Linked DNA regions of Homo sapiens: regions 1 and 2 are each linked to region 3. Evidence: fine-mapped expression QTL. A gene starts in region 3. Each other region holds a variant in brackets. All regions are shown on one strand. Distances are between the middles of the regions.

What was found. PIP is the estimated chance that this variant, and not a neighbour inherited with it, causes the effect. A credible set is the group of variants that fine-mapping cannot tell apart.
Region 1: its variant is the best candidate, but not a certain one, in a credible set for the expression of FDFT1 in atrial appendage (GTEx, PIP 0.57).
Region 2: its variant is the best candidate, but not a certain one, in a credible set for the expression of FDFT1 in whole blood (TOPMed, PIP 0.75).

The regions. Positions count from the first base shown.
Region 1 is chr8:11,772,573-11,780,430 of GRCh38, forward strand. It overlaps NEIL2 (nei like DNA glycosylase 2), which reads left to right. Exons shown (of 5, transcript NM_145043.4): 3 at 7,026-7,378. Among named protein-coding and RNA genes, the nearest start is that of NEIL2, 6.8 kb to the left of the region's middle. The variant AAGC/A (reference allele first, on the strand shown) is at 2,746.
Region 2 is chr8:11,821,367-11,829,611 of GRCh38, forward strand. FDFT1 (farnesyl-diphosphate farnesyltransferase 1) reads left to right here. Exons shown (of 8, transcript NM_004462.5): 4 at 384-512; 5 at 4,658-4,849. Among named protein-coding and RNA genes, the nearest start is that of FDFT1, 23 kb to the left of the region's middle. The variant A/G (reference allele first, on the strand shown) is at 3,036.
Region 3 is chr8:11,799,233-11,805,191 of GRCh38, forward strand. It overlaps FDFT1 (farnesyl-diphosphate farnesyltransferase 1), which reads left to right and starts at 3,509. Exons shown (of 8, transcript NM_004462.5): 1 at 3,509-3,699. The coding sequence starts at 3,601. It overlaps LOC105379243 (a long non-coding RNA gene), which reads right to left and starts at 2,123. Exons shown (of 3, transcript XR_948962.4): 1 at 2,081-2,123. RefSeq lists enhancers at 783-1,426, 1,556-2,298, 2,299-3,040, 3,078-3,237 and silencers at 1,071-1,130, 3,308-3,557, 3,768-3,887.

The sequences.
Region 1 (7,858 bases), 26 kb before region 3:
TGTACTTCCTCCTGTTCTTCCCTTTTTACTGAGTTGTTCTGCTTGTTGAGGGGAGAGGACAGATGCAGAGGGCAGGGGCTGCTCCTCGCCAGTATTGTGCCCCCAGCACTTAGCTGAGTGCCGGCACGTAGGAAGCACGGGTGGTGCCTGTGGATGAGCTCACGCGCTCTGCTGCTGCTTAGCCGTGTGCTCTTAAGCATGTTCATCTCATAGCTCTTTCTTCTATTGTAGAATGGAGATAAGCCATTGACCTCTTAAAGTTGTTGTTTTAAGTAGAGTTTATGCCTGGCACATAACGGGTACTCCATAAGTACTAGTTCCCTTTCTTCCATCTTGCCCTCACCCCCCACCCCCGCAACACACACACACAGAGGTTTTAAAACCGTTGTTAGTTAGAACTGGAAGAGATCCTGTAGCCCTGTACCCATAGTTGATTCCTTTGGAGACTGAGGCTCGGAGAAGGGAGTACTTAGCCCAAGCTCAGGTGGCTGGCAAGGAACAGGTGAGAGCACGGGGTCCCATGGCCTCCAGGACTGTGGCCTCTTTGTACACACTGTCCTTCGAGGTTTGCAGGGGCAGAATTGTCTCTTGTCTCTGGATCCCCAGCACTTACCAGGGTGTCTGCCACAGAGCTGGCTGTAAGAGAATATTTCCCAAGTGGATGGGTGGGCAGATGGATGTGCGGTGAAGGAACCCGTAGACGGGACTGGGAGCTGCTTTCCCAGTAAACCAAGCAGAAAACCATGTTGCAGGGAACCTAAGGTTGCAGGGAACCTTCGGGGCTGCCTGGCAGTGCTTTGAAGTGAGCGCCCTTCCCTGCTTCTCCCTGTCGGCGGGTCCCTGACCCTAGGAACTTAGAACTGAATTGAGAACATACGGCTTGTATCGACACAGGCCACACTATTAAGCTATGCTAAATGGGGAGGGCAGAGCACATCATAAAGGCCCAGGTAATGACCCTGACAGGAAGAGGTCCCGGTGGCCTGGAGAAGATGTGCAGGAGGTAGGACTTGAGTTGGGCCTTGAAGGCTGGAGGATTTCAGTGGACTGAAGAGGGAGGAAAGGGCATTTCAGGCTTGAGAAGCAGTTACAGGCGGGCCGATGGAGGTGGAGTGAGCAGGGTGAGTTGATGAGGCAGGAGGGAGCTTGGCTGCACTCTGTGCCATCTGTTTGTCTGGCACATCCTTTTCTTGTCAGCTCTCCATTTTCTATATAGGAGTTGTGTTGGATTACTCATAACAGACTCAGAAAAATGGCTACTCTAGCTCATGGTTTTCTCCTCCTCCAGTAATGGAACAGTCCAGGGTGGTATAGGAGCAACATTGGAAACCAAGCTCCTTCTACTCTCCCCTTCCAAGACTGGGTAATTTATGAAGGAAAGAGGTTTAATGGACTCACAGTTCTGCATGGCTGGGGAGGCCTCGCAATTATGGCAGTAGGCGAAGGGGAAACAAAGGCACATCCTACATGGTGGAAGGCAAGAGAGCTTGTGCAGGGGAATTACCATTTATAAAACCGTCAGGCCAGGTGCAGTGGCTCATGCCTGTAATCCCAGCACTTTGGGAGGCAGAGGTGGGCAGGTCGCCTGAGGTCAGGAGTTTGAGACCAGCCTGGCCAACATGTTAAACCCCATCTCTACTAAAGATGCACAAATTAGCTGGGCATGGTGGTGGGCGCCTGTAATCCCAGCTACTTGGGAGGCTGAGGCAGGAGAATTGCTTGAACCCAGGAGACAGAGGTTGCAGTGAGCTGAGATCGCACCTGCGCTCCAGCCTCAGCAACAGAGTGAGACTCCATCTGAAAAACAACAACAACAAAAAACCCATCAGATCTCTTGAGACTTATTTACTATCACGAGAACAGCCCCCATGATTCAATTACCTCCCACTGGGTACCTCCCACCAGGTCCGTCCCATAACACATGGGAATCATGGGAGTTATATTATTCCACCCCCAGGCCCTTCCAAAGCACAAGTCCTCACATTTCAAAACCAATCATGCCTTCCCAACAGTCCCCAAAAGTCTTAATTCATTTCAGCATTAATTTAATAGGCCACAGTCCAAAGTCTCATCTGAGACAAGGCAGGTTGCTTCCACCTATGAGCCTGTAAAATCAAAAGCAAGTTAGTTACTTCCTAGATACAATGGGGGTACAGGCATTGGGTAAATACACCTGTTTCAAATGGGAGAAATTGGCCAAAACGAAGGGGCTACAGGCCCCATGCAAGTCTGAAATCCAGTGAGGCAGTCAAATCTTAAAGCTCCAAAATGATCTTTGACTCCATGTCTCTCATCCAGGGCACGCTGATGCAAGAGGTAGACTCCCACGGCCTTGGGCAGCTCTGCCTCTGTGGCTTTGGTAGGGTACAGTCCGTCATCCTGGCTGCTTTCACAGGCTGGCATTGAGTGTCTGTGTGTTTTCCAGGGCAGGGTGCAAGCTGTCAGTAGATCTACCATTCTGGGGTCTGGAGGACAGTGGCCCTCTTCTCACAGCTCTACTAGGCAGTGCCCCAGTGGGAACTCTGCCTTGGGGCTCTAACCCCGTCTTTTCCTTCTGCACTGCCCTAGCAGAGGTTCTCAATGAGGGCTCTGCCCCTGCAGCACACCTCTGCCTGGACATCCCGTTGTTTCTATACATCCTCAGAAATCTAGGTGGAGGTTTCCAAACCTCCATTCTTAACTTCTGTGCACCTGCAGGCTCAACACCACATGTGAACCGCCAAGGCTTGGGGCTTGTACCCTCTG[AAGC/A]AGCAGCCTGGGTTGTACATTGGCGCTTTTTAGCCATGGCTGGAGGGGCTAGGACACAGGGCACCAAGTCCCTAGGCTGCACACAGCAGAGGGGGCCCTGGATCTGGCCCAGGAAACCATTTTTTCCTTCTAGGTGTCTGGACCTGTGATGGGAGGGGCTGCTGTGAAGGTCTCTGACATGCTCTGGAGACATTTTCCTTATTGGCTTGGTGGTTAGCATTTGACTCCTAGTTACTTATGCAAATTTCTGCAGCCAGCTTGAATTTCTCCCCAGAAAATGGGTTTTTCTTTTCTACTGCATCATCAGGCTGCAAATTTTTCAAACTTCTGTGCTCTGCTTCCTCTTGAATGCTTTGCCACTTAGAAATTTCTTTCACCAGATGCCATAATCATGTCTCTCAAGTTCAAATTTCCATAGATCTCTAGGGCAGGGGCAAAATGCCACCAGTCTCTTAGCACAGCAAGAATCACCTTTACTCTAGTTCCCAGCAAGTTCCTCATCTCCATCTGAGACCACTTCAGCCTGTACCTTATTGTCCATATCACTATCAGCATTTTGATCAAAGCCATTCAACAAGTATCTAGGAAGTTCCAAACTTTCCCACATTTTCCTGTCTTCTTCTGAGCCCTCCAGACTGTTTCAACCTCTGCCTGTTACCCAGTTCCAAAGTTGCTTCCGCATTTTTAGATGTCTTTACAGCAATGCCCCCCTCCCAATACCAGTTTACAGTATTAGTCTGTTCTCATGCTGCTGATAAAGACATAACCAAGACTTGGTAATTTATAAAGGGAAGAGGTTTAGTGGACTCACAATTCCACATGTCTGGGGAGTCCTCATAATCATGGTGGAAGGCAAAGGAGAAGCAAAGGCATGTCTTACATGGCAGCAGGCAAGAAAGAGCATGTGCAGGGGAACTGCCCTTTATAAAACCATCAGATCTTGTGAGACTTACTGTTGTGGGAACAGCATGGGAAAAAACCCATCCCCATGATTCAGTTATCTCCCACCGGGTCCCCCCCACAACACGTGGGAATTATGGGAGCTAAAATTCAAGATGAGATTTGGGTGGAGACACAGCCAAACCATATCACACATTTTATGGTCAGTGATGTCCAGTCATCAGTTGTTGGACACTCGGATTGTTTCAACTCTTTGACTTCTATGGATAATGCTGCTGTGGGCATTCATATGCAAGTATTGGTGTAGACGTATGTTTCCATTTCTCTTGAGAGTATTCCTAGGAGTGGAATTGCTGGACCATATAGTATGTTGAACTTTTTTAGTGTCTTCTGTAGTGTTTTCCAAGGCAGCTGCACCATTTTATCATCCCACCAGCAGTGTATGAGGACCAATCCTTCCATTTTTAACCTCTTGCCACAGCACCTGGGGCCTCCCCATCTCCAGGTCACCTGGGGTCACGATGGGTAGGTCCCCTGGGTTCTCTCTTCCTTGGGGCTCCCCTCTGCTGCAGCAGGGGTCTCTGCTCTCCCTCATCAGTTACCCTTCCTGTGCCTGTTCCTCATCTTCTGGGGGGACTTTGTATCTCCTGTCTGCTCCTCCTCTTGGTCCTGAGAGTTGAGAGCTCTTTGGTTCCTATAGCGGGTTTGTTGGGAGTAGTGCTAACAGCGCACGCCCTGGCTGCTGTGTCTGACCAGGAGCCCCTGTTCCAGTGTAGGGTTTCCACCTCTGCCTTCAGGTATGTCCCCTCAGCTGGGCACACCCTGTCTCCTCTGCCCTCCACTCTTCTTGTGAAGCCCAGCCCAGGTAACGGCCAGCTTCCCCTCATCATGTAGACTCTTCTTCCGTGTGCTACGTCTGCTTCTACCCACACTTTTCTTTTCTTTTTTTTTTGTACAGATGGGCGTTTCACTTTGTTACCCAGGCTGGTCTCGATCTCCTGGGCTCAAGCAATCCTCTCGTCTCAGCCTCCCAAAGTGCAGGGATTACAGGCATGAGCCACTGTGCCTGGCCTAGCCACACTTTTCTCTGTGCTCTTGTAGTATCTGTTTTCACAGTTGTCCCCCTCCCACCCCCACCGCCTTTTAAAAATTTTTAAAATTGTGATGAAAAACACATAACAAACTTTACTGTCTTAACCATTTTAAAGTATATAGTTCAGTCATGTTAAGTGTATTCACGTTGTCTAACAGTTTCCCTGAACTTTTTTATCTCCCCAAGCTGAGACTCCATACCTGTTGAACGCTAACTCCCCCTTTCCTCCCTCCCTGCAGCCCCTGGCAATCACCTTTCTACTTTCTGTCTCGATGAATTTTACTTCCCCAGATACCTCATATCAGTGGAATTATACAGTATTTGGAGTTTTTTTGACTGGCTTATTTCACTTAGTATAAAGTCCTCAAAGTTCACCCATGTTATAGATAAGGGAAGATTGGAGATTGTTGTAATCTAATTTTGCTGCTATTACAGAATATTTGAGACTGCATAATTTATAAGCAATGTAAGTCTATTTAGCTCACAGTTCTGGAGCCTGGAAAGTCCAAGGGCATGGCATTGGCATCTTGCCGTGTCATTTGCAATTGGCATTATTCCATTCAGGAGGCCAGAGCTCTATGGCCTAATCTCAAAGTTGCCATCTCTTACCACTGTTCCATTGGGGATTAAGTTTCCAACACATACTTTTTGAGGAACACATTGAAAGCATTGCAGAGCCTTATTCATCTGTTTGCCCTTGGAGCCTAGCACACTGCCAGGCACATTGAATAAGCTTAATTAATGATTAGTGAATTGAAGTGGCTGCAGTGTCACAGGAACCCAAAAGAGGGACAGCAGAAATTGCCATAGTTGGTATGAGGACATCCTGACCTAGACATTTTTGACCTAGTAAATGTTTTGTTCATGATGGGCATTTGACAGTTATTTTCATCAGAATTATATCAACATTGGTGAGTTTATACCAAGAAATATTTTCTGCAGCAAATTCTATTATGCCCACTTAAATCCTTGCTCAGTTTTTTTTTTTTTTTTTTTTATGTAGGTCAGTTAAACCATTTCTAATATGTGGCAGATAACAATCTGTGCTCAGATTTACAGATAAGCTATTCTGGGATTATTTCGAAAGGTAATGCTCTTTTGGGTGGAGGACTTCAAGATTAATTTGTGTACTAATTAACAAGTTAAAGATCATACCAGAACAGTGATCTTTAAGCACGGACCTGTAGTGGTCAAGAAAGTAACACAGGCATTTCCAGTATTAATGCCAGATATTTTGGTTTATACTCCTTGAAAGACTGCCTGAATTTCAGGCTGTGTAGAACTGACTCATCCTGGAATCTAGGCCTACATATTGCATATCAGGAGGTGCAATATGAAAATAAAGTCAAAGCAAGGGCCCAGGCATGGTGGCTCATGCCTGGAATCCCAACACTTTGGGAGGCCAAGACGGGCAGATCGCTTGAGGTCAGGAGTTCGAGACCAGCCTTGCTAACGTGGTGAGACGTGGTCTCTGCTAAATATACAAAAATTAGCTGGGGGTGGTGGTGTGCACCTACAGTCCCAGCTACTTGGGAAGCTGAGGCAAGAGAATCACTTGAACCCAGGAGATGGAGGCTGCAGTGAGCCAAGATGGTGCCACTACACTCCAGTCTAGGCGAGACTCCATCTGAAAAAAAAAAAAAAAAAAAAAAGACAGCAGAACATCCTTTAACACACATTTTCTATATTTATTTTCTTCTACTGAAATCATTTTCAGTGAGATGAGGTGGGTCCTTTGCCTTATACTTTTTAGAGTGGTGATCTGATTCACTGATCAATTTTTGTTTCAGTATCTAATTTTTATTGATTACAGTTTCCTTATCAAGTCCAATATGCTGGTGGAGGGGGTAGCGAGGGGTACCCAGTTTCACAGGGTGTTGTCTTTAGCTGCTCTGTATGTGTGCATTCCCACGCACCGCTTATTTCTGGCATAGAAAATGTATTACGAATGGAATGAAGGAATGACAACTTATGTTCATTTCTTAGCTACTGCATGAAAAAATTGGGAGCGATTCCCTTCAGGTATTCCAGGGTGGCCTTGCCATCTTGCATGGGTGTGTTTCACTGCCAACTAAGTCTCCTTGCTCCCAGTCACTTTGAAAACCACATGCGAACTGCTCACACCACTGGAGCAAAAGAGCAAAAGGCAGAGTCCAAAGACTTCATTTGGGAAGGCCCCCCAGGAGGGGTGAGAAGGAAGACCTTTGCAATAGGATAAATATCCGCATTCCCCAGTTCCCCTCTCTGGGTCTGTAAGGCTTGGATCTCTGTTCATTTTTTCTAGGTCCATGGAAAGAAATTATTCCTTAGATTTGATCTAGATGAAGAAATGGGGCCCCCTGGCAGCAGCCCAACACCAGAGCCTCCACAAAAAGAAGTGCAGAAGGAAGGGGCTGCGGACCCAAAGCAGGTCGGGGAGCCCAGCGGGCAGAAGACCCTTGATGGATCCTCACGGTCTGCAGAGCTCGTCCCCCAGGGCGAGGATGATTCTGAGTATTTGGAGAGAGACGCCCCTGCAGGAGATGCTGGGAGGTGGCTGCGTGTCAGCTTTGGTTTGTTTGGCAGCGTTTGGGTGAACGATTTCTCCAGAGCCAAGAAAGCCAACAAGAGGGGGGACTGGAGGGACCCTTCCCCGAGGTAATGGTGTGGCCATCTGATTTTCGTGGGCTCTGATAGTCATAGGGCCCTGCTTGGTGGGGTTTGGGACTTCAGCAGTGGGGACATACTGAGGACGTCCAGTCTGCCCCCCAGGGCCCTGCTGTCTTGGGGAGAGAGGCCACCTCTGTATCTACCTGTGATAGGAAGTAGACTGTGGTCTGCATGCAGGAGAGGGTTGTGCACCAAGAGGTGGCTGGGAGAAGGGGAGAATTTTCCCAGCAAATGTGGCACTTGAGGGGGGACTGTCCCTGAAGAACATTTTATTGCCTGACTCCTGACTAGTGTGCTTTGAATTTAGGGAGAAGATTTTCCCAGTTTTATTTTAAGTATATTGTTTGTGTGTTTATTTTTTATTGAGATATAATTAACATTCAGTAGAATGCAGATCTTAAGTATTCAGCTTGATGAGTTTTTTTGCTTTGTTTTGAGACGGAGTCTTGCTCTGTTGGCCCAGGCTGG
Region 2 (8,245 bases), 23 kb after region 3:
TGGATCATGAGGTCAGGAATTTGAGACCAGCTTGGCCAACATGGTGAAACCCCACTTCTACTAAAAATATAAAAATTAGCTGGGCGTGGTGGTGCATGCCTGTAATGCCAGCTCCTGGAGAGGCTGAGGCAGGAGAATCATTTGAACCTGGGAGGCGGAGTTTGCAGTGAGCTGAGATCGTGCCATTGCACTCCAGCCTGGGCAACATTGCGAGACTCCATCTCAAAAACAAAAACAAAAACAAAAAAAATGTGTGACCTAAATTAGGCTTATAGATGAACCATTGCAGTCATGATTAATTCCGCCATTGTTTGCCTTGTGATCTTTGGTGCCATGTCTGTACATATTTCATGATTTCTGTGTTTTTACGGTTTCCATTTCAGATCTCCCTTGAGTTTAGAAATCTGGCTGAGAAATACCAAACAGTGATTGCCGACATTTGCCGGAGAATGGGCATTGGGATGGCAGAGTTTTTGGATAAGCATGTGACCTCTGAACAGGAGTGGGACAAGGTTAGTCTCATAAAACAGTGTCTGTGTGTGATGTATTAGACAGAGCTGGCAGTCCTCATAGTGAAGCTCAGAACAAGAAAAGTTGTCCAGTATTTTCAGCCCCTCTGGTTTTACAATTCATCTGTTTAGGTTGAATGTCTCATCATAAACAGTTTATTCCAGAGTTAATTCCAAACCAGCAGCTATGTAGGATATCAGCCAGGCTAGGAGTAGGGTACTGGAGAGAAGTGCTTATCTAGACAAAGGGATGTAATTGACCATGAAGATTAAAACTACACATCAAAACATAAGGTAGGGTTAGGAGTCTTGCCTATTTTTCATAGGAATGGTGTTTGTGAGACTTACTCATCACTTCTGTGGAAGTAAAGACATTTTATTTATTTATTTTAAAGCCAGTCAGATTTAGCAGGCAGAGACATTTCAGACATCTAAAGTGTTGATGTATTTCATACCTTTAACTGTGCTTAAATTAGGATCTCCGAAAAGATGCTGCTACATGGTCACTACGTTAGTGTAGGTCCAAGGTCTTGGGCCTCTTAATTTTTCAAACCTCAAAACTTGACAGCAGTTATCTTTGGAACTGCTGATTTGTGCTTCCTAAGTTAACAGCATACAATGACTGCTAGAAATCAATTTCTGCATTTAAGGTGAAGTTAGCCGGGTACTATGGTTTACCTGTAATCTCAGCACTTTGGGAGGCTGAGGTGGGAGGATCATTTGAGCCCAGGAGTTAGACACAAGCCTAAGCAACATAGCGAGACCCCGTCTTTCAAAAAATTAAAAAATGAGCAGGGAATTGGTGGCATGTGCCTGTGGTCCCAGCTACTCTGGAGGCTGAGGTGTGGGAGGATTGCTTGAGCCCAAGAGTTGAAGGTTGCAGTGAGCCATGATTGTGCCACTGCACTCCAACGTGGGTGACAGAGCAAGACACCATCTGAAAGAAAATAAAGTTGAAGTTAAAACTTCTGGCCAAGAACCAGCACTGGTTATGATAGTAACTCATTTTCTGTTGTGCAGATTTATTCAGGAAACTTAATTTTAGGTTGTTGAATAGAAGTTTTGATCAGATAAAATTGAATTAAAAAAAATTTTTTTTGAGACAGGGTCTTGCTGTTATCCAGGCTGGTGTGTAGTGGTGTGATCACGGCTCCCCGCAGCCTCAACCTCCTGGGCTCAGGTGATCCTCCCACCTCAGCCTACCGAGTAGCTGTAACTACAGTGCATGACACCATACCAGGCTCATTTTTGTACATTTTTTGTAGAGAGAGGGTTTTGCCATGTTGCCCAGGCTAGTCTCAAACTCCTGGCATCAAACAGTCCTCCCACTCTGGCCTCTCAAATGTTGGGATTACAGGCATGACCAGCCAATTATTTCAAGGAGTTATTTTTTTTCTTCTACTTTGGGGGAAGATGAATTATATAAGTCTCCATTTTAGGAGTATTTCTACCAAAAGAACTATTATCTTCAAATATATTTTTGGATAGTACTATAGATATACTAATTTTTTTTTAAATTTCTAGTAATTCTTTTGAAGATTTTGTATAGCTGTCCAAAGCCAATTTCTGTCTACCTAATTTCAGCAAGATTTCACTCTTTTCATGTTACTTTTGTCCCAGAACAAATTTCAAGTGCTTTCTCTTCACCTGTGCATTCTTCCCCCTGATTAGTCTCTGGCTTTGTATTACTTTCAGTCAGAGACGACTTTTTTTTTTTGAGACAGGGTCTCACTCTGTCACCCAGACTGGAATGCAGTGGCACAGACAAGGCAGCCTTGACCTTCTGGGCTCAAGCAATCTTCCTTGCCCTCAGCCTCCTGAGTAACTGGGACCACAGGCACGTTGCCACCATGCCTGGCTAATTTATTTTAATTTTTATTATTTTTGAGACAGGGTATTGCTCTGTCACCCAGGCTGGAGTGTAGTGGCATGATCAAGGCTCACTGCAGCCTTCACCTCCTGTGCTCAAGCAGTCCTCTCACCTCAGCCTCCCCATTAGCTGGGACTATAGGTCCACACCACTACACCAGGCTAATTTTTGTAATTTTTTGGTAGAGACAGGGTTTCATCGTGTTGCCTAGGCTGGTCTTGAGCTCCTGGGCTCAAGCGATTCACCTGCCTTAGCCTCCCAGGTGTGAGCCACTACACTCAGCCTTTTAAAATTTTTTACAGAGATGAGGTCTTGCTTTGTTGGCCAGGCTGGTCTAAAACTCTTGGGCTCAAGCAGTCCCCTCTCCACAGCCTCCCAAAATTCCGGGATTACAGGCGTGAACTTCGGTCATTTCCTAACTTTTACCCTTCCTAATGACACTCCAGAGCTTACCTTCTTTACTTTTGCTTCTTAAGTTAACTAATAGACAATTATTGTATGTGGATATTGCATTAAGTTGTCTTAGGATACCCTTTTCAGAGGAGGACAGCTTTTGACAAATTGCTGTCGCGGAAAAAAAAAGTATTTGGCAATTAAGAGTTGCATTTACTGAAATCTCTGTTGAGAGAGGGGAAGTTACGTTGTCTCTAAAAGAA[A/G]AACTAAAAAGAAAAGGGGAAGTTTTAGCAAAGTTGTTAAAGCCTGACACTTAAGTCATACTACCTAGTTTTGAACTCTTAGCCCCTGCCACAGACACGGCAGCCCCTTGAACCTTCCTGGGTTCAAGCGAGCCTCCTACTTCAGCCCCCTGAGTAACTGGGACCACTGGCCTGTGTCACTGTGCCTGGCTAATTTTTTTTTTTTCTCACATGGGCAATGTTGGGCAAGTTAAATCGACTTCTTTGTGCCTCAGTTTCCTCATCTGAAATGGAGATCATACTGCTATGTACCTGATACAATGTTTGTGAGGATTGAATGTGCAGAGTTCTTTTTTTCTGTTGTTGTTGTTTTGAGACGGAGTCTCACTCTGTCGCCCAGGCTGGAGTGCAGTGGCGCGATCTCGGCTCCCTGCAAGCTCCACCTCCTGGGTTCACGCCATTCTCCTGCCTTAGCCTTCTGAGTAGCTGGGACTACAGGCACCCGCCACCAGGCCAGCTAATTTTTTTGTATTTTTAGTAGAGACGGGGTTTCACCGTCTTAGCCAGGATGGTCTTGATCTCCTGATCTCGTGATCCGCCCGTCTCAGCTTCCCAAAGTGCTGGGATTACAGGCATGAGCCATCGTGCCCGGCTGAATGTGCAGAGTTCTTAAAACCGTGTCAAGAACATAAAATAGTTATTTGTTCTTTCATATAATGATGATTTTGAGGGCCTGCGGATCTTGACATGTTATCAGATTGGTCAAAAAAAGATTAAACCATAGTTGGTATTGTCCTAGTTCCTGTTACCAGAATATTCCATCTTTCATCGTTGCCTTCTCTCATAGTTTTATGTATCAAAAAGTTTATTGTAAAGCTAGGGCGGGCACGGTGTCTTGGGCTGGTAATCCCAGCACTTTGGGAGGCCAAGGCTGGCAGATCAGTTGAGGTCAGGAGTTCGAGACCAGCGTGGCCAACATGGTGAAACCCCGTCTCTACTAAAAATAAAAAATTAGCTGGATGTGGTGGTGGGTGCTTTAATTCCAGCTACTCAGGAAGCTGAGGCAGGAGAATCACTTGAACCCAAGAGGCAGAGGTTGCAGTGAGTTGAGATTGTGCCAGTGCACTCCAGCCCAGGGGACAAAGTGAGACTTGATCTCAAAAAAAAAAAAAAAAAAAAAGTTATTGTAAAGCTAGACACGGTGGTATTTGCCTACAATCCCAGCTGTTCGGGAAGCTGAGGCAGAAAGATTGCTTGGGTCCAGTAGTTTGAGTCTAACGTGGGCAAATATATGAGACTCCATCTCAAAAAAAAAATAAAAAATAAAAATAAAAAAATGTTTACTAGTTTTTTTCAGTAGCCTTTTATTATAGTAGCAGTACATGTGTATTGTAGAAATTTGGAAAATACAAGTGAAAAATAAAAACATCAAATTCCCGTCAGCCAGAGACTGCTATGAAATGTTTTGAGCACATCCTTCTTGAATGTTTTTTAAATCCTGGTATGTATATTTGTATTTTAAAATCAAAATGCATTCTTACCCATTCTCTTTTGAACCTGCTTTTTTGTAGCTAATGATCTCTAGTGTGTCCATTTCAGTAAAAATTCCATTATTAAAGTGCTTTAAAAATCGTCTCTTACAGTACTGCCACTATGTTGCTGGGCTGGTCGGAATTGGCCTTTCCCGTCTTTTCTCAGCCTCAGAGTTTGAAGACCCCTTAGTTGGTGAAGATACAGAACGTGCCAACTCTATGGGCCTGTTTTTGCAGAAAACAAACATCATCCGTGACTATCTGGAAGACCAGCAAGGAGGAAGAGAGTTCTGGCCTCAAGAGGTAACAGATTCAGGGTATTTTGGGGGAAAATAACTTTAGACATTCTCTGAAAAATCCTTTAACTCTTGTGGTTGCGGGTGACAGAAAAACAAGTCAGGCCTCCCCCAGGCAGCATAAGGGGATGTGGAAAATAGGATAGCTTGACATGAGTTTGCTTCAGGTAGACTGGCTGACTCCCAGGATTCACACCACGTAATCAGTATATTCAAGCCTTGCTGTCCTTGATTTCTTTCAGACGGTCTTTCTCCAAGTGGTGGATATGGTAACAACCCATGTGCACTAGCTTAACAAAAAGTTCTTAGGAATGGCTTTGTTCGGCCTGGCGCAGTGGCTCATGCCTGTAATCCCAACAGTTTGAGAGGCCAAGGTGGGCGGATCACCTGAGGCCAGGAGTTCGAGACCAGCCTGGCCAACATCGTGAAACCCCGTGTTTACTAAAAAATACAAAAATTAGCCGGGCGTGGTGGCAAGGGCTTGTAATCCCAGCTACCTGGGAGGCTGAGGCAGGAGAATCGCTTGAACCCAGGAAGCAGAGATTGCGGTGAGCTCAGATTGTGCCACTGCACTCCAGCCTGGGCGACAGAGTGAGACTCCCTCTCAAAAGAAGAGGAAGGGCTTGGTTCTTCTGCTCAGCCCTGAATCAGTTACTGTTGCTACACAGCTGAGTTCTCTGGCCTCGCCTGGATTACGTCTACACAGTACACACAGAATGGATTTCCCCCAAAGAAAGAATTCTGCAGCAGGAAGGGGAAAGGGATGGCAGGTAGACAAAAACTCCAGGTGTCTGTAATAAGGGACAGGGTCGATCTTTAATTAAAACATGGACAGGGAACAGAAAGCTTTTGATACTGATTTTGTTCAGAAGGAAAGTAGAAAATTTTATGACTGTTCCCTGAATTTATTCCAGCATTTACCTTTTGCTTTCCATAAAAGTGTTTCCTGCAGCCAAGTACTTTAAAGTTTTAAAAAGACGGGTGAGGCTAAGTGTGGTGTCTCATACTTATAATCCCAGTGCTGAGGCCAGGAGTTCAAGACCAGCCTGAGCAACACAGCAAGATACCATCTCTATAAAAAATTGTTAGAAAATGATTCTGCTGAAAGAGCAAAAATAAAAATTAAAGAAAGTAGAAAAAATAAAACTAAATTTAAAAGATTAACTGGGCATGTTGGCATGCACCTGTATTCCTAGGTATTCGGGAGGCTAAGGCACAAGGATCCCTTGAGCGCAGGAGCTCAAGGTTGGATTGAGTTGTAATCACACCACTGCACTCCAGCCTCGGTGGCAGAATGAAACTGTCTCAAGAAAAAAAAAAAGTGACAGAGGGAAACAATATTTGCAATTCATAGAGCAGATACAGGGTTCATATTCCTAATATTAAAAAAAACTTCTAAAAGTTAAGAAAAAGGCCAACTGCCCCACAGAAAAATGGGCAAGGAGATAAGAACAAGATAGTTCACAGGAAGAGACACACAGATGATTATTAAAAATCTGAAAAGATGCTGAGTCTTACTCCTAAGAAAAATTCACATTTAAACTACTCTGGGGGCTGGGCAAGGTGGCTCACGCCTGTAATCTCAACACTGGGAGACCAAGGTAGGAAGATCACTGAAGCCAGGATATCGAGACCAGCCTGGACAACGTAGTGAGACCTTATCTCTTAAAACAAAACAAAACAAAACAAAACAAAAAAAACAGTAAAAATTGGCCGGGCACAGTGACTCCTGCCTATAATCCCAGCACTTTGGGAAGCCCAGGTGAGTGGATCACTTGAGGTCAGGTGTTTGAGAACAGCCTGGCCAACATGGCAAAACTCCGTCTCTACTAAAATTACAAAAATTAGCCAAGTGTGGTGGCATACGCTGGTAGGGCCAGCTACTTGGGAGGCTGATGTGAGACTCCATTTAAAAAAAAAAAATCAAAAATTAGCTGGGTATAGTGGCACACCCCTATAGTTCTCGCTCCTTGGGAGGTTGAGGCAGGAGGATTGCCTGAGCCCAGGAGTTCAAGGCTGCAGTGAACCATGATCGCACCACTGCATTCTAGCAGCCTGGGAGACAGAGCAAAACCCTTGTCTCAAAACAAACAAACAACAACAAAAAAACAAAAAACACTTCCCTCAGCTCAGACATGGCCTTTTAAGTTTCCTAGGTGACTCGTGTGCAGCCAGGGTTGAGAAACCACTCTTGTCTTACCCCTCTTTTGCAGACACAGGGCTCAGAGAAGGGAAGGGGATTGTCTGGGGATGTATAGTGAGGCAGTGGCTGCCTTGGAAGTGGAGTCTCAGTCTCCCGGCTCCTAGGCCAGCCCCTGACCACTGTTCCATTGTCTCCCAGACAGAACATCAGCCACGGGCATGTGATGCATGAGCGTGAGCCACACCATCTTGCACACACAGGAGCAGAGCCCTGCTCTTCTCATTCACTTACTTTATCTGTAAAATAGCATCATTTCTACCACACGGTGGTGGTGTGAATAAAATGAGATGAACTTCTAGCATAGAGTGCTTAGTAAAGGTTCTGGACATTTCGTAGTAGTTGAATCATGCCAAATGTGGTCCTAGGTGATTGGCTTCTTTTGCTAGCATGTTTTCAGGGCTCCTCCATGCTGGGGCATTGCATCACTGCTTTATTCCTTTTTATCGCCTAGTATTATTCCACTGTGTGGATAGACCACATTTATCCATTCATCAGTTGAAGGATATTTGGGTTCTTCCCATTTTTTTTGGCTATGGTGAATAGTACTGTGTACATTTGCATATAAGTTTTTGTGTAGATGTGTGTTTTCCTTTTTCTTGGGTCTATGCTGAGAAGTGGAATTGCTGGTTCATACAGCAGCTCGAACCTTGTGAGGAGCTGCCAGACGCTTTTCCAAGGTCGCTCCACCATTTTACATTCCCGTCAGCAGTGTGAGAGTCCCAGTTTCACCAGCACTTGTTGTTATCTCTTTTTAACTGTATGTATATATACTTAACATTTTATTTATAATAAATGTACATAATAGAGAATTTGCCATTTTAACTATTTTTAAGTCTATTATTCAGTGGCATTAAGTACATTAATGATGTTATATAACCATCAACACTATGTTTCCAGAACTTTCGCTAGCTTCAGAGAATCCTCTAAATAATATCATTAAAAATCATCAAGCCGAATCCCACTGTTAGAATTAAAGGTTTTATTTCACTTTCAAGTTATCAGGATCCAGGGAGGTGTAATACACTTAGAGGATAGACTCAGCTCATTTCCCAGCTATGCCTTTCAGCAGCTTTCTTACCAGAGTAGGAATATAATGTTAGTCATTATTTAGAGGCCTGGCCATCTTGAGAAGGTTTACTGTTTAGTCTGCAGTACAATTATAACTGTTTTTGTATATTGGGTTATTTTTTTCAGAAGTAG
Region 3 (5,959 bases):
CGGTCTTATCAGGAGAAAGTTACTGAGATCAATCTCTTGACCAGTCAAAGCTGTAGTTATGGCTGGTGGAACAGGGGTTCAATTAGTCACTGTCTGGTGGAGCTGCAGGTGTTTTACTATTGCTTATCTCAAGGCCAGCGTTTAGCTGCTGGAGAAAAAGAAGAGCCCTGTGGCAGTTAGAGCTTAGTTGATTCTTCAAGTGTAGGGGTGCCTGACTTCACCATTGCCTGCATGGCCTTAGGTCCTGTTTATAATTGGGTATCTTATTGCCACAGAGTCTGTTCCGTTAGTCTTATGATCTCTGTTTTAATGTTAATGCCAGCCAGTTGTGTATGAACTCCAAAAGGAAGGGGGTACAATGAGGGCTATCTGATCTCCTGTCCCGTTATTTGAAATGCTTTTTCCCTGGTGCTGGAAAGAAATAGCACTTGTAGGCTGGGAGCCGTGGCTCACGCCTGTAATCCCAGTACCTGGGGAGGCTGAGGCGGGCGGATCACGAGGTCAAGAGATTGAGACCATCCTAACCAACATGGTGAAACCCTGTCTCAACTAAAAATAAAAAAATTAGCTGGCCGTGGTGGTACATGCCTGTAGTTCCAGCTACTCGGGAGGCTAAGGCAGGAGACTCACTTGAACCTGGGAGCCAGAGGTTGCAGTGAACCAAGATCGCGCCACTGCACTCCAGCCTCACGACAGAGTGAGACTCCATTTAAAAAAAAAAAAAAAATGAAGAAGAAATAGCACTCGAAGGCTGGGCGCAGTGGCTTGCCTGTAATCCTAGCACTTTGGGAGGCCGAGGAGGGTGGATCATGAGGTCAGGAGTTCAAGACCAGTCTGGCCAACATGGTGAAACCCTGTCTCTACTAAAAATCGAAAAATTACCCAGGCGTGGTGGTTGGGCGCCTGTAATCCCAGCTACTCGGGAGGCTGAGGCAGGAGAAGCACTTGAACCCAGAAGGCAGAGGTGGCAGTGAACCGAGACTGTGCCACTGCACTCCAGCCTGGCAACAAGAGTGAAATTCTGTCTCAAAAAAAAAAAAAAAAAAAAAAAAAAAAAAAAGGCGCTTGAACATTAATTTACTAAGCAGGCCATTTTTACTTCCTGCAGAAAGGGTACACTCGCCAGCAGTTTTGCCATGGGAGTATACCAAACAAAGGAGACAGGGTCATTTATAACCTGACTCGTCCACCCCACTGCTTGTGTCTAGTTTCCATTGGCTGGAACGGTGCCTCACGTTCTGTATTTGTCCCGATTGGCTAGCAACTTAGAAGTTTTTAAAAGAGGCAAAGGTAGAGGAGAACAAAGGAAGGAGGAAGTAACTTGTGGAATGGTGACAAAGGTTGAAACACCTTCAAATAAGGAAGAGGAACAGGCTATGACCTAATGCTTTCTTGGACCACTATAAGCATGCCAGGGCAAATATTTAGGCTAAATTGTGAGAGCTAAGAACATGAAGTACATTGATTTCTTTATCATAGCTAGCAGATATTTAAGAATGTTAGCACAGGTCTTTGAATAAAGTTTGCTTCTAAGAGAAGTTACTATTTATTCCTAATTAAATGGGGAGGAAAGTCTTTGAAGAGGAACCTCTACTTTACTTTTTATACCGTCATGGCTGGAAACTAAGTTTTTAAGATTTTTCTGGGGTTCCCTTGGCCGAGGTGGGGAGTGGGAGGGCTGTCCAGTGGTAGGGACTTAGGATTTTTAGTTTACAGTAGTAGGGGAAACACTCTGTAATCTAATACATAAGTAAATGATGTATTAGAATATGGTAAATATAGGCAAGTAGACCCCCACTGGGATTAGCAGTGGTGGAAATGTGAGAGAGGGCAAACAGGTGGGTCTAGATGAGGTGTGAGCAGACTCGAGGGGCACAGGAGTTAGTCAAGCCAGTATCTGGGGGATAGTGCAGGAATAGTGAACAGCTAGACAAAAAGTCCTAGGGCCAGAGAAAGCAAAAGCATAAGAGATGGAGGCCAGAGAGGTAATCTGGGTGGAAGGCTGCAGCCTCTCAGGATCCCTATAGGTGCTTTGGCTTTTGTTGGAGAGACACTGAACAGCTTTGGGCAGTGAACGTACCTGACAGGTTTCCTGTTTGTTTTTGAGATGAAGTCTCGCTCTTGTCCCCCAGGCTGGAGTGCAATAGCGCGATCTCAGCTCACTGCAACCTCTGCCTCCTGTGTTCAAGCGATTCTCCTGCCTCAGCCTCCCAGGTAGCTGGGATTATAGGCGCCTGCCACCATGCCTGGCTAATTTTTGTATTTTTAGTAGAGACGCAGTTTCAGCATGTTGGCCAGGCTGGTCTTGAACTCCAGACCTCAGGTGATCCGCCCGCCTTGGCCTCCCAAAGTGCTGGGATTACAGGCATGAGCCACCGCGCTCGGCTAGACCTGACAGGTTTTAAAAGGATTACTGGTTGCTGTGTTAAAACAGACTGCAGGATGGCTTAGGTAGCCAGTAGGTTTTTTTTTTTTTTTGGAGACGTAGTCTTGCTCTGTTGGCCTGGCTGGAGTGCAGCGGTGTCATCTTGGCTCACTGCAAACTCCGCTTCCCGGGTTCAAGTGATTCTCCTGCCTCAGCCTCCGGAGTAGTTGGGACTACAGGCGCCCACCACCACACTCGGCTTTTTTGTATTTTTAGTAGAGACGGGTTTCACCATGTTGGCCAGGATGGTCTCGATCTCTTGACCTCGTGATCCACCCGCCTTGGCCTCCCAAAGTGTTGCGATTACAGGCGTGAGCCACCACGCCTGGACGGGTAGCCAGTAGTTTCTAGGGCTGGAGAGATCTAGGATGAGAGAAGTTTCCACATTCCTGTTACAGGCTCTCTAAGGCTTCAGCTCCTTTTTCTAGGACTAAGCTGGATCTCAAGTAAACACTAGAGAGGGGGCAGCTGAAGCTCCAGGAGTGTGTGGGGCTCCCTGGGGCTGGATGGCGGTGGCGGGCAGGCGAGCTGGGCTGTGCTCGGGTGTGTTACAGTAAAGACGCCCAGCTTGGCGCTGGCCCGGCCTTTTCACGGTTTTAGGCTCTACAGAGAGCGGCTGCAGAGCTCACCCGGCTGGCAGGAGCCACCGAGGCCGGACACGTGGGCGACTTATTGACCAAGTGGGGAGGAAGCAGCCCCGCACTGCTCTCCCGACTGCGGACCACCGTTGGGCTCCTGCGCATCCTAAGCCCCACCGCCTCACCTCCAGTCCCCACAGCGTTCGCGCTCCCAGCCGGGGTAAGCGGAAGAAAACAAAGGCCCGGCTCCATCAGGGCACCAATCCCGCTCGTCGGCCTCTTTCTCGGCCTCCAATGAGCTTCTAGAGTGTTATCACGCCAGTCTCCTTCCGCGACTGATTGGCCGGGGTCTTCCTAGTGTGAGCGGCCCTGGCCAATCAGCGCCCGTCAGCCCACCCCACGAGGCCGCAGCTAGCCCCGCTGGCGGCCGAGGCCGGTTGAAGTGGGCGGAGCGGCGGGCGGGGCGTCGCCGTACTAGGCCTGCCCCCTGTCCGGCCAGCCCCTCGAAGCACCTACTCCACAGGTCCAGCCGGCCGGTGAGCGCCTGGGGACCGCAGAGGTGAGAGTCGCGCCCGGGAGTCCGCCGCCTGCGCCAGGATGGAGTTCGTGAAATGCCTTGGCCACCCCGAAGAGTTCTACAACCTGGTGCGCTTCCGGATCGGGGGCAAGCGGAAGGTGATGCCCAAGATGGACCAGGTGGGCCGAGCCTCCCTGCTTGCCCGGGGCGGGGAAGGAGCTCGCTGGGCCGGCCTCAGGGCCTGAGCGGCCGGGCCCGGATCTGGGGCAAGGGGCGCGGCGAGCAGGGCCGACGCCTGGGTGTTCCCGTCCCCCTTTCCTCGAGCCTTCCCCCTGTAGGGCCCGGGTGGACGCGGCCGTCCTGGCTGACCTGTCCCTGCCCCCGCAAGCCGCCCTGGGCATGAGCGACTTTTGCGTGGTTCCCGGTGGTTGCGCTCCCCGTTTCGTCCCCTCCGTGAGCATCGGCGCTTACCGGTATTTTAACCCGAGGGTTACACATCTGAGGCAATGTGGGTGGGTTACGCGGGAGAGGACGAGTGAGTTTTTTGGTAAGCGGAATGAACTATGCAGATAACATCACATGAAGGCCGTTTCTGGAATGAAGTCTGACTCCTCCAGTTTCACCACCTCTTCCGGAGCTCTCCCCGCCTTGCTGCCTTCCATCGCTTCATCCTCGGTGCTTCCTGAGTTTTAAAATCGCCTATCTACGCTTCCAAGTTCCAATGAGTTATCTAACGTCTATGGATTAGCTAGGTGGTTGGTGGAAGGTCAGAACTTGGTTTTACTTAGATTTTTATCTGCCTCATGCCTGTACTATTTGTTTAATGAATGCATAGGAGGTGTTTTTATTCCAACAAGAAAATTATTCGTACGCGATTATTGAATGAATAGACAAATTCAGCCAAGTTCTTCTGGTCTGGACCAGCCTGGCTGATTTCTGTAACTTTTTTGGGCCAACAGGACAGTAGCAAATGTGACTCAGGCCGAGGCTTGATAGGTGCCTGAACATCGGAGTCTTTCTTTCAGTGTCCATGTGCTTCAGTAAACACACTAGAAAATAAATTTCTGGTTTTTGTCCCCAGTAGACTACACCCTCATTTGGTGTTATTTTTCACGTGCTATCTTTAATACAGGTACATCCTTCAGTCTATTTGTAGAACATTCAGTTTTCTTCATCTTTTCTTTGCCGGTGCTACATTATTTGAATTATTTTGCTACAGAATAACTTCTATTATTTGATATGGCAGATGTCACTTTTTATATTTAGATATAGCATTCATTTATTTAACAAATATTTGACGACCAGTTGTATATCAGATAGTGTTCTAGGTGCTGGAGGTACAACAGTGAACAAGCTAGGTGAAGACCTTGATTTTATAAAACTTACTTTTTAGTGGAAGAGAGACAATTTAAGAAAGCGAATGTACAGTTTTTCACGTGGAGAAAAGCACTGCAGAGGAAGATACTAGCAGGGCAAGGGATCTGAGTGCAGTCAGACCTCATTTGGGTCCAGACTTCATTCCTCTATGTCTCTTTCCTTTCTACAGAAAGACTGTTAGAGAAAATGGTAGCATTGGTTTCCTGTTGGGAGGGAAAGTGGGTGGTCATGGTAAGTGGGTAGAGAAAGACTTCACAGTATACTGTTTTTGTACATTTTGAGTTTTTTTAAAAGCGAGACTTGAGCTATTCTAGCTCTGATAATATGGTGCAGTATTTGTTATGTTAGTTGTAGTCTTTCTGGGCAGTTTTTACATCCCCATGAGCCGTTAAAAAAATACCTGAACCTTTAATTAGGGGAAATAAATTGGAAAAATACATTTCCCTTCACTTAACATTATCTTAGTTTCTCTTTTTTTTTTTTTTTTTTTTTGAGATGGAGTCTTGCTCTGTTACCCAGGCTGGAGTGCAGTGGTGGCGGGACCTCAGCTAGATGCAGCCTCCGCCTCCTGGGTTCAAGCAATTCTCCTGCCTCAGCCTGCTGAGTAGCTGGGATTACAGGCACCTGCCACTACGCCCGGCTGATTTTTTGGTATTTTTAGTAGAGACGGGGTTTCACCATGTTGGTGAGGCTGGTTTTGAACTCTTGACCTCAAGTGATCTGCTCGCCTTGGTCTCCCAAAGTGCTAGGATTACAGGCGTGAGCCACTGCACCCGGCCTTTTTTTTTTTTTTTTTGAGGGGGGGGTCTCACTCCATCGTCCAGGCTAGAATGCTGTGGCCTGAACATGACTCACTCCAGTTTTGACTTCCTTGGCTGAAGCCATCCTCCCACCTCGGCTTCCTGATCCCGAGTAGCTGGGACTCCAGGCACGTGTCACCAATGCATGGCTAATTTTTAAATTTTTTTGTAGACACAATGTCTCGCTGCATTGCCCAGGCTGGTCTTGAACTCCTGAGCTCAAGCGATTTTCCCACCTCAGCCTTCAAAGTGCTGGGATTAC